Linked DNA regions of Homo sapiens. The protein of the gene in region 1 purifies or fractionates together with the protein of each later gene. This does not show direct contact. Each region holds a gene or a part of one and is shown on either strand. Other genes may lie near its edges.

The links.
Region 2: the proteins of POGLUT3 (region 1) and ACSF2 fractionate together in Homo sapiens (co-fractionation; one large-scale study listed by BioGRID). This does not show direct contact.

What each region holds. Positions count from the first base shown.
Region 1 is NC_000011.10:108,495,295-108,499,833, forward strand, and holds the start of POGLUT3 (protein O-glucosyltransferase 3 isoform 1 precursor), read right to left. Parts: upstream 3,091-4,539; 5' UTR 3,073-3,090; coding exon 2,871-3,072; exon of another isoform or gene 2,667-2,870; coding exon of another isoform or gene 2,507-2,666; intron 1,925-2,506; exon of another isoform or gene 1-1,924. UniProt on the Homo sapiens protein: Protein glucosyltransferase that catalyzes the transfer of glucose from UDP-glucose to a serine residue within the consensus sequence peptide C-X-N-T-X-G-S-F-X-C. Can also catalyze the transfer of xylose from UDP-xylose but less efficiently.
Region 2 is NC_000017.11:50,471,126-50,475,548, forward strand, and holds the end of ACSF2 (medium-chain acyl-CoA ligase ACSF2, mitochondrial isoform 2 precursor), read left to right. Parts: coding exon 1-10; intron 11-1,243; coding exon of another isoform or gene 1,244-1,258; exon of another isoform or gene 1,259-1,273; intron 1,274-1,302; coding exon 1,303-1,454; intron 1,455-2,539; coding exon 2,540-2,681; intron 2,682-2,768; coding exon 2,769-2,879; intron 2,880-3,073; coding exon 3,074-3,142; intron 3,143-3,376; coding exon 3,377-3,427; 3' UTR 3,428-3,712; downstream 3,713-4,423. UniProt on the Homo sapiens protein: Acyl-CoA synthases catalyze the initial reaction in fatty acid metabolism, by forming a thioester with CoA. Has some preference toward medium-chain substrates. Plays a role in adipocyte differentiation.

The DNA.
Region 1 (4,539 bases):
CCAGTAGCTGGGACCACAGCTGTGCACTACCACGCCTGGCTGATATTTTGGATTTTTTTGGTAGATGGGTTTTGCCATGTTGCCCAGACTGGTCTCAAACTTCTGAGTTCAGGCAGTCTACCAGCCTTGGCCTCCCAAAGTGCTGAGATTACAAGGCATGAATAACCAGCTATTCAGTTGGTTCTTGAAGAGGGAAAGACTTCAGGACTTGGAAGTGAATGTTGGTGGCAGAAATGTAAGAAACTAGTTGGGTGAGTTTTCAGAACTATACGGCACCTTTTTAACTGGAAGCCAGAAATCAAGAGGCCTGAAAGGAAACAAAGGGAATCCAAAGGAATGAAAGTAAGGTTGTCCAAAAAGTTCCATTTTATTTATTTATTTAGAGAAAGGGTCTTGCTATGTTGCCCGGGCTGGAGTGCAGTGGCACAATCATAATGCACTGCAACCTTGAGCTCCTGGGCTCAACTGATCCTTCTGCCTCAGCCTCCCAAGTAGGTAATTTTTAAAATTTTTATTTTAAGTAGAGATGGAATCTTGCTATGTTGCCCAGGCTGAGAAGTCTTTCTAAGACTAAAAAAGGTAAAAAAAGAAAAGTCACAGATCACAGGGGTAAACCATGCAGAATCATAAATGTAACTTTCCTTCTGTTAAGATATTTAATAGAAACTGTCTGTAAACTTTTTCGTTTGTTTAAATATATTTATGTATATATAATATATGTACATATAAAACATATACACAACTTTAAGTCATGTATCATTTGGATTTTAACTGAGAGTCTTTAACATACATTAGAGATTGACAAACTAGCTAATCCAGCTCAGTGCCTGTTTTTGTAAATCCTGTAAGCTAACAATGATTCTTATATTTTTAAAATGGGGATGGGCATGGTGGATTATGCCTGTAATCCCAGCATTTGGGGAGACTGAGGCAAGAGGATCCCTTGAGGCCAGGAATTTGAGGCTGCAGTAGCTATGACTGTACCACTGCACTGCATCCTGGGTGACAAAGACCTTGTCTCTTAAAAAAAAAAAAGGAGGAGGGGGGTTGGAGAAAAATCAAAATAATAATATTCTGTGACTTATGGAAAACTATATGAAATTGAAATTTCAGTGGCCATAAAAAGTTTTATTGTAACATAAACGGGTTTGTTATATGTCCATGGCTACAAAGCACAGCTGAATAAATGTGAGAGATGATATCACCTACAAAGCCTAAATTATTTACTATCTGGCCCTTTAAAGAAAAAGTTTGTGAAACCCTGATATACACACATGCGTTTCTGTCAATAGAGTCGGAATTATTTTACCTAAATGCATATCATGCATATGAAACCAGTTGTCTGAGTATTTAGGGTCTAACTGGTAGACACGTTATCAAAGCAATGCCCAAAGACAACTTCAGGAGTGGTGTTCTGAATCAAATGTAGAAAACAAGCCACTGAGGTAGTTAAGGGAGAGGCAGATTCTTGCCTCAGCTCAAATTTCTCCAGTGGCTCTCTTTTATCTAGTTATAAAGTCATTTGCTTGGCATTCAAGGCGCTTGAAGACCAGAGGCTACAATCAACCAGGCTTTTCCGCTCAGTATCATTAAATTACAGTACTTATTTTCCCGAACACCACGGTCTCCTACGCCTCTGTGCTTCTGCACATGCCATGGCGTCCTTCTATATGCCTGCCCAGCAAACCTTCTCATCCTTCAAGTCTCTGCTCCTGAAATCTTCCTGGATTTCTCCAGTCTCTGGCAGTGCTTCAATGTTGCCACTGCACTCTGTACATACCTTCAATTATCTTGTACAGTGATCAGTTATTTGCATGTCTTTGACCAACAGACTGTAAGTTCCTTGATGGTCAGGCATTGTCTTTTCATCCTTAGATTCCCAGCAGAATTACCAAACACAGAAGTAGACATCAAAGAAGTATTTCTTGAATGAATGAAATTTTAAAAATCATTAAATCTAAAAGTGAATTATGTTTGGTTCCTAAATTCTCTGCTTTGCCCAGCTGTCAAGACCCCCTTACCCCTTTCCCAAGTTGGGACACACTTCTGGCAGCTATGTTCCCAGCTGGACTAGCAGGGGCAGAGGCACTGGTTTATTCTAATTGTCTCTTCGCTGATACAACAAGGTGCTAGTTGGCCAGAGCCCCAAATTATACATTAGCAAATCCTGACTGACAACAGCGTGAAACCAGCAGGACAAGTTTTAAGAAGTTGCAAAGGTTAAGACGTGAAGGACAACGTGGGAGGAGGACCGGGCAGAAAGGGATTCAGGACGAGATCCATCTCACCCTCCGTGGAGGGAAAACCGAATGATTTCTACTGAGTTTCCCTAGTTCCTGTAATCTGCTTTCAAAAACTCAGAACTAAAAAGGAAACAAAAAACTAACACGTAAACCCCTCCTCCTTCCTACGGCTCTGACATTTCCTCTGCGTAGGATTTCGTTGCTCCAAACCCACCAGGCCTAAGCCATGTAATCCGACGCGATCCGTCGGCTTGATGACTCACCACTGGAAAGCGCTCCCTGCAATCCCTCACAGTTCAGACAACTAAGTCCGAGATGGAAGGCAACGTGTGACTCACGGCACACTCCTTGTAACGCCCGGGCGCCGTCCATTCGCAACATCAGTCCCTGCACATTAAATGCGGAAGGGCCCTTCAAGTTCATTCATTCATTCATTCCACAAACTTTCGTGGTGATTTTTGCCCGCTTTGAGTATGGGCGGGAGGAGGGAAGAGGAGCTGACCAGACCCAAAAAGGGGCGACACACGCCGGGGAGGGACGCCACGCAGGCCGCGGGCGGACTCCCGGGCGGCGGGGACGCGCGGGGACCCGGCCGCGGGACGAGGGAGGCCGGCGGCTGGACACTACCTGCGGGAGAGCGAGTGAGGTTCTGGCCCTCCGAGTTGACCGCCTGCAGGTAGAAATAGCGGACCGGCAGGACGACGGCCGCCTGCAGCCCGGGCCCCCACACCAGGCTCCGCGGCGCGCTGACCAGCACCTCCGGGGCCCCCGCGGCCACCAGCAGGGCGAGGCGCAGCTGCAGCAGCAGGGCCCGCGGGAGGCGGCGCATGGTCGGCGGGGCACAACTGCGGTCCAGCTCCGCGGCGGCGAGGAGGGGCCGGCAGCGCCGCGGACCGGGCGGGGACTGGGGCCCACCGCGGGGCGGGTCTTTCGGGCGGGAAAGATTGCGGCGCAGGCTCCCTTTCCCGCCCGCTGTCCCGCCTCGTCTCCCTCGGGCGGGAACGCGAGCCAGTGCCGCAATCACCCACTGCGCGCCCTGTAGGGGTCGACGATGGGTGCGCCCCTTCCTCCCCGCAGCCCCATAGGCCCCGTGGAGGAAAGGGGTGGAGAGGCCCGCCCAGAGACCGAGGCTGCGAGTGTGCGCTGGCTGTTGATTGCCAAGGCTTCAGGCACGCCTGGCCTCCACTTCCAGTGGTCTTTCCCTTTCTTTTTCTTCCTTCCTTTCCTTCTTTCTTCTCTTTTCTTTCTCTGTTTTTATACAGACAAGGGGGCTGGCTCTGTCGCCTAGGCTGGAGTGCAATGGCGCGACCACAGCTCACTGCAGCCTGGAACTCGTGGGCTCAGGAGATCCTCCCGCCTCAGCCTCCCGAGTAGCTGGGACTGACTGTAGGCACACGACACCACGCTGGCTAATTTAATTTATTATTATTATTATTATTATTATTATTATTATTATTATTACTATTACTATTTGTAGAGACGGGGTCTCCCTATGTTGCCCAAGGTGGTCTTGAACTCCTGGTTTCAAGCAATCCGCCCGCCTCGGCTTCCCAAAGTGCCGGGATTACAGGCATGAGCCACCGGGTCCGCCGCTCAGGTGTTTTTAAAGGACGTAGACCCGGTGGTGATTGTTGTGGGACGATGAAAGGGTCCGGCCCCAAGATCGATGTAGTTTAGGGAAATATCTTTTCCCAAGGAATGTCTCCGAGTTTACAAGATGAGCGCCAAGGTCACGCCCCCCGCCCTCCCTCACAGCCCTCTGTTCACAGCAGCACCGTTCTCTTGTGGCCGGTTTTGTTGCTTTTCTGCTTAGCAGCCTCCCTCACAGAACCGTGATCCCCCCACCCCACACATCCCTTTCCCCGCTTCCTCCCGCACTCCTCTTCTTCCAGCAGGTGTTTACAGAACATCCACGGAGTTTGGGCCAAGCCCAGAGTGAGGAGCTGGGCACTGGGGTGGCAGAAGACCAGGCCTTGCCTTGAGCCCTTGTGCGAGCTTTACCTCAAAGCCTCTGTAATCGAAGTGGGAGAAGGGGTGGTGGTGCGTGGTTGGTCTCAGCCACCTCCACCACTCCTCAGAAGATGAACGCTGGATCCAGGAAGAGATTGTCAAGGTTACTATCTGCCTCTCTTTTTTGATCATTTTATCCAATTTGTTAATGGATACAAATTTGTTAATGGATTGTTAATAGATCTGAATTTATTTAAAGCCAATAAAGATTCTCCTCTGGCTGAATGATCCAGAAGGAACTCACACCCCAGAATGGACACAGGATTTCTGCACCCTCTTGGGGGAA
Region 2 (4,423 bases), on another chromosome or scaffold:
TCACACGGAGGTGAGCCCCTGACCAAGACTCCAAAGTCCCACCTCCCGTCACCCAGCTGGGGTGCACCCAGCTGGGACATCGGTTGCTTTCAGTGAGAGAGTCAAATGGCTCACTCAGGATGCCTAGAGCCCCCCAGCAGCAGGGGTGTGCTAGGCCTGGCCCGGAGTGTTCTCTGTGGGCTAAGCATGAAAGGGGAAGAGCTGGAACAGTGGCTGTGAGCGGCTGCCAGCTGAACTTCTCCGCGGCCTCCCTTCCTGTCTGAGGTGTGTTTTTGCCAAGCCCACTGTCTGTTTCAGGGCAGCCAGGGTAGCCTCAAAGAGGAGCCAGAGCACAGAGAGTTTTCCTACACAGCTTCTTTTCCTCCAGTGGTGCTCGCCTCTCGCTTTAGCAGAGTTCTTCTTCTTGCTTGGCGTAAACACTTCATTTCCCAAGCAGCCTATCCCTTTGGGGCGGTCCCTTTGCCCCTCAAAGGTTGCCCCAGAGTGCACCTGAATCTCAAATGCCCAGCCATGCCTCCTTTCCTGCTCCAACACTGGGGCTGTGCCAGCTGGCTCCTGATTTCCCCTGCACCCTTCTGCTCCCGCCCCTGGGGGATCGCTGCCCCCGTGCACAAGCAGCTGCTTCCCCTGGGGCTGACCGCTGTCCTGGCGTGAATCTGCCCTGCCCTCCCGCCAGAGCAACCATGTACCCAGGGATTGAGTAGGGATGTGAGCCTCCTCCCGTGTGTGCTACAGCTGCACTGCCACTGTCACTAAGATGCCCACCTGGAAGGGAAACAGGGGCAGGCATCACTCACCCCATTTCACGGACACAGACACTGAGGCACACAGAGGCTCAGCTTTCCTTGGCACGGTGGCCGTGGCTCTTTTCTCTACCAGGCTTTCAGACTCTGTCTCTCCTGTTCACATGGTGTTGCCATGCCACCCTGTTTGGCTTATTTGCTGCTTAATGGGAAGTAAGAGGAGACTCCCTTCTCCTCTGCACGGTTTATAATTCTTCAGCTGGCTCTGCAGTCCACAAACCTCTTTCTTTGCAGCAGCTGCCTGCCCACTCTGTTTCCTCAGCCCTCCCAGCCTGGGACTCAGCTCTTCTTTCATGCCCAGCTCAGGTCTCTCACTGGCTTTGGGTCGACTCTAGCCTTTGTCTCCCTTCTCTGGATGGGGATAAGCAGAGCCAGGGGGCCTCATTCCAGGCAGTTGGGTTGGGGGGTTGGGGGCAGGCAAAGCTCTCTCCATTTCCAAGGACCACCTATCCTGAAGCAAGAGGATAGGAAGCCCCAACCTGAGGCCATCCTGTCCCAGGCCCGGATCATGAACATGGAGGCAGGGACGCTGGCAAAGCTGAACACGCCCGGGGAGCTGTGCATCCGAGGGTACTGCGTCATGCTGGGCTACTGGGGTGAGCCTCAGAAGACAGAGGAAGCAGTGGATCAGGACAAGTGGTATTGGACAGGGTGAGAAGGCAGGGCGGGGTGGAGGCTCTGGCCGCTGAGGGGAGGCTGGAGGTCTTGAGGCTGAGCCGGGAACATTAACCTGGCACCGTGAGGATGTGGGTATCAAGATGACCCCTCACATGCTGGAGTCTTAATTTCCAAAATGTATACGGTGGGGATGATCATACATAGCACAGAAGAAAGCAACTGGGTCATCACCCTACACCAGCAGCTGCAAAATCTGAGTCCAGATTCAGTCACTCATTTGTTAGCTCAGCAAATTCTTACTAGAATTCCTTATGTGCTAGCACCGTTCTCGCCGCTAGAGGTCCAGAGGAAAGTAAGATGAGAAGGATCCTGCTTTTTGGAGGAAGACAGATGATGCCCAACATCGATAAATAACACCAAGAAAATAGGCCAGGCGCGGTGACTCACACCTGTAATCTCAGCAGTTTGGGAGGCCGAGGCGGGTGGATCACCTGAAGTCAGAAGTTTGAGACCAGCCTGGCCAACACAGTGAAACCCCACCTCTACTAAAAATACAAAAATTAGCCGGACGTGGTGGCGGCACGTGCCTGTAGTCCCAGCTACTCGGAGGCTGAGGCAGGAGAATCGCTGTAACCCAGGAGATGGAGGTTGCAGTGAACCGAGATCGCGCCACTGCACTCAAGACTGGGCGACAGAGCAGGACTCCATCTCAAAAACAAACAAGCAAATGAACAAACAAAAAACACTAAGAAAATGAAATAGGGTTATAGGAGAGAAAGTGGCTGTGGTGGGGAGGGGAGCTTCCCTTAGATTGAGTGGACAGAGAAGATGTCTGGAGACATTTGAGCTGAGACCTGGAAAGAAGCCAGTCGTGAAAAGCTATGTATAGATGTGTTGAGAGAGACAGAATATGTTATAGGTATTGTTTTGTTTTTGTCTACCTCCCCTCCCCTTACTGGACTATTAATTCCAGAGACTGTGTCTTGTTCCTGCTATGTCTCCCAGAGTCTAGAGCAGTGGAAGACACATAGTAGCTGGTCAATAAATGTTTCACGACTGAGCAAGCAAGTGAGTGAACAAGGCAGAGATGACAGGTTGCCCCTGGGCTTTCCTTACAGAGATGTCGCCACAATGAATGAGCAGGGCTTCTGCAAGATCGTGGGCCGCTCTAAGGATATGATCATCCGGGGTGGTGAGAACATCTACCCCGCAGAGCTCGAGGACTTCTTTCACACACACCCGAAGGTGCAGGAAGTGCAGGTGAGGCACTTGGCTCAGGTGAGCCCCCAGAAACAAGAAACACACATGAACACGGTGATGTCTGATATTTTTCTTTGGCCCTGGAAGGTGGTGGGAGTGAAGGACGATCGGATGGGGGAAGAGATTTGTGCCTGCATTCGGCTGAAGGACGGGGAGGAGACCACGGTGGAGGAGATAAAAGCTTTCTGCAAAGGGAAGGTGGGAGCCTCCGCTCAACCTAGCTGATGCTGCTCTGTTCTTTGCTCACCCACTCCTCTGCCAACCAGCCCAGGGTGGGGATTGCTCTGCCCTTGACGAAGCTGACTCCTGGCCAGGCCAGCCCCTGGTCCCCTACCCATACCCCTGTGAGCTTGCGCAGCCTCACGCCTTACCTCCCTCCCTCTGGTCTGCAGATCTCTCACTTCAAGATTCCGAAGTACATCGTGTTTGTCACAAACTACCCCCTCACCATTTCAGGAAAGGTGTGTAAGGTGGAGGAGGCTGGGGAGGGCAGCCTGGGCTCTGGGGCCCCATAGGGCCCCACCTCTGTTTCCTTCAGCAATGGGTGTGGAGAGACTGGCAGTAGGGTGACCGGGTCACCTAATCCTGGTTTGCCTGGGGACTTTCCCTGTTTTGGCACTAAGAGCCTGAGAAACCCCTTATTCTTGGGTGAACCAAGACAGCTGGTAACCCTAACTCCATTTTCTTTCCTCTAGATCCAGAAATTCAAACTTCGAGAGCAGATGGAACGACATCTAAATCTGTGAATAAAGCAGCAGGCCTGTCCTGGCCGGTTGGCTTGACTCTCTCCTGTCAGAATGCAACCTGGCTTTATGCACCTAGATGTCCCCAGCACCCAGTTCTGAGCCAGGCACATCAAATGTCAAGGAATTGACTGAACGAACTAAGAGCTCCTGGATGGGTCCGGGAACTCGCCTGGGCACAAGGTGCCAAAAGGCAGGCAGCCTGCCCAGGCCCTCCCTCCTGTCCATCCCCCACATTCCCCTGTCTGTCCTTGTGATTTGGCATAAAGAGCTTCTGTTTTCTTTGGCTTCTTGCTGGTGGGCTCTCTTGGCAGCTACTACAGGATGGAGAAGGGAAGACACTGAGGGGAACTAGCACTTTCAGACGTCCTATTCCTTGTCATTGAGAGTGCAGAGCACCTTGATGTGGATTATCTACTTAATTTAACCCTCACCCTTGGTATCCCTTTGAGATACCAACCCATTTTTGTTGTTGTTCTTGTTTTTTGAGACAGAGTCTTGCCCTGTCACCCAGGCTGGAGTGTAGTCATGCGATCTCAGCTCACTGCAACCTCTGCCTCCCTAATTCAAGTGATTCTCCTTCCTCACCCTCCCAAGTAACTGGGATTGCAGATACCCACCACCACACCCAACTAACTTTTGTATTTTTAGTAGAGGCGAGGTTTTACCATGTTGGCCAGGCTGGTCCTCAAACTCCTGACCTCAAGCAATCCGCCTGCCTCAGCCTACCAAAGTGCTGGGATTACAGGCATGAACCACTGCGCCTGGCCCCAATTTTTTATTTTTAAGCTACTCTAATTTAATTCTTTTTCACATTGTTGCCAGATTAGTCTAGCAAGAAGTATTCTTTTTATATATGTATAACAGCTTGATTGAGATGTAATTCACATACTCTCCAGTTCACTCCCACCTCCCCCATTTTCTAGAGACAGGATCTCATTCCGTCACCCGTGCTGGAGTGCAGTGACTCACTGTAGCGACATGATCATAGCTCACTGC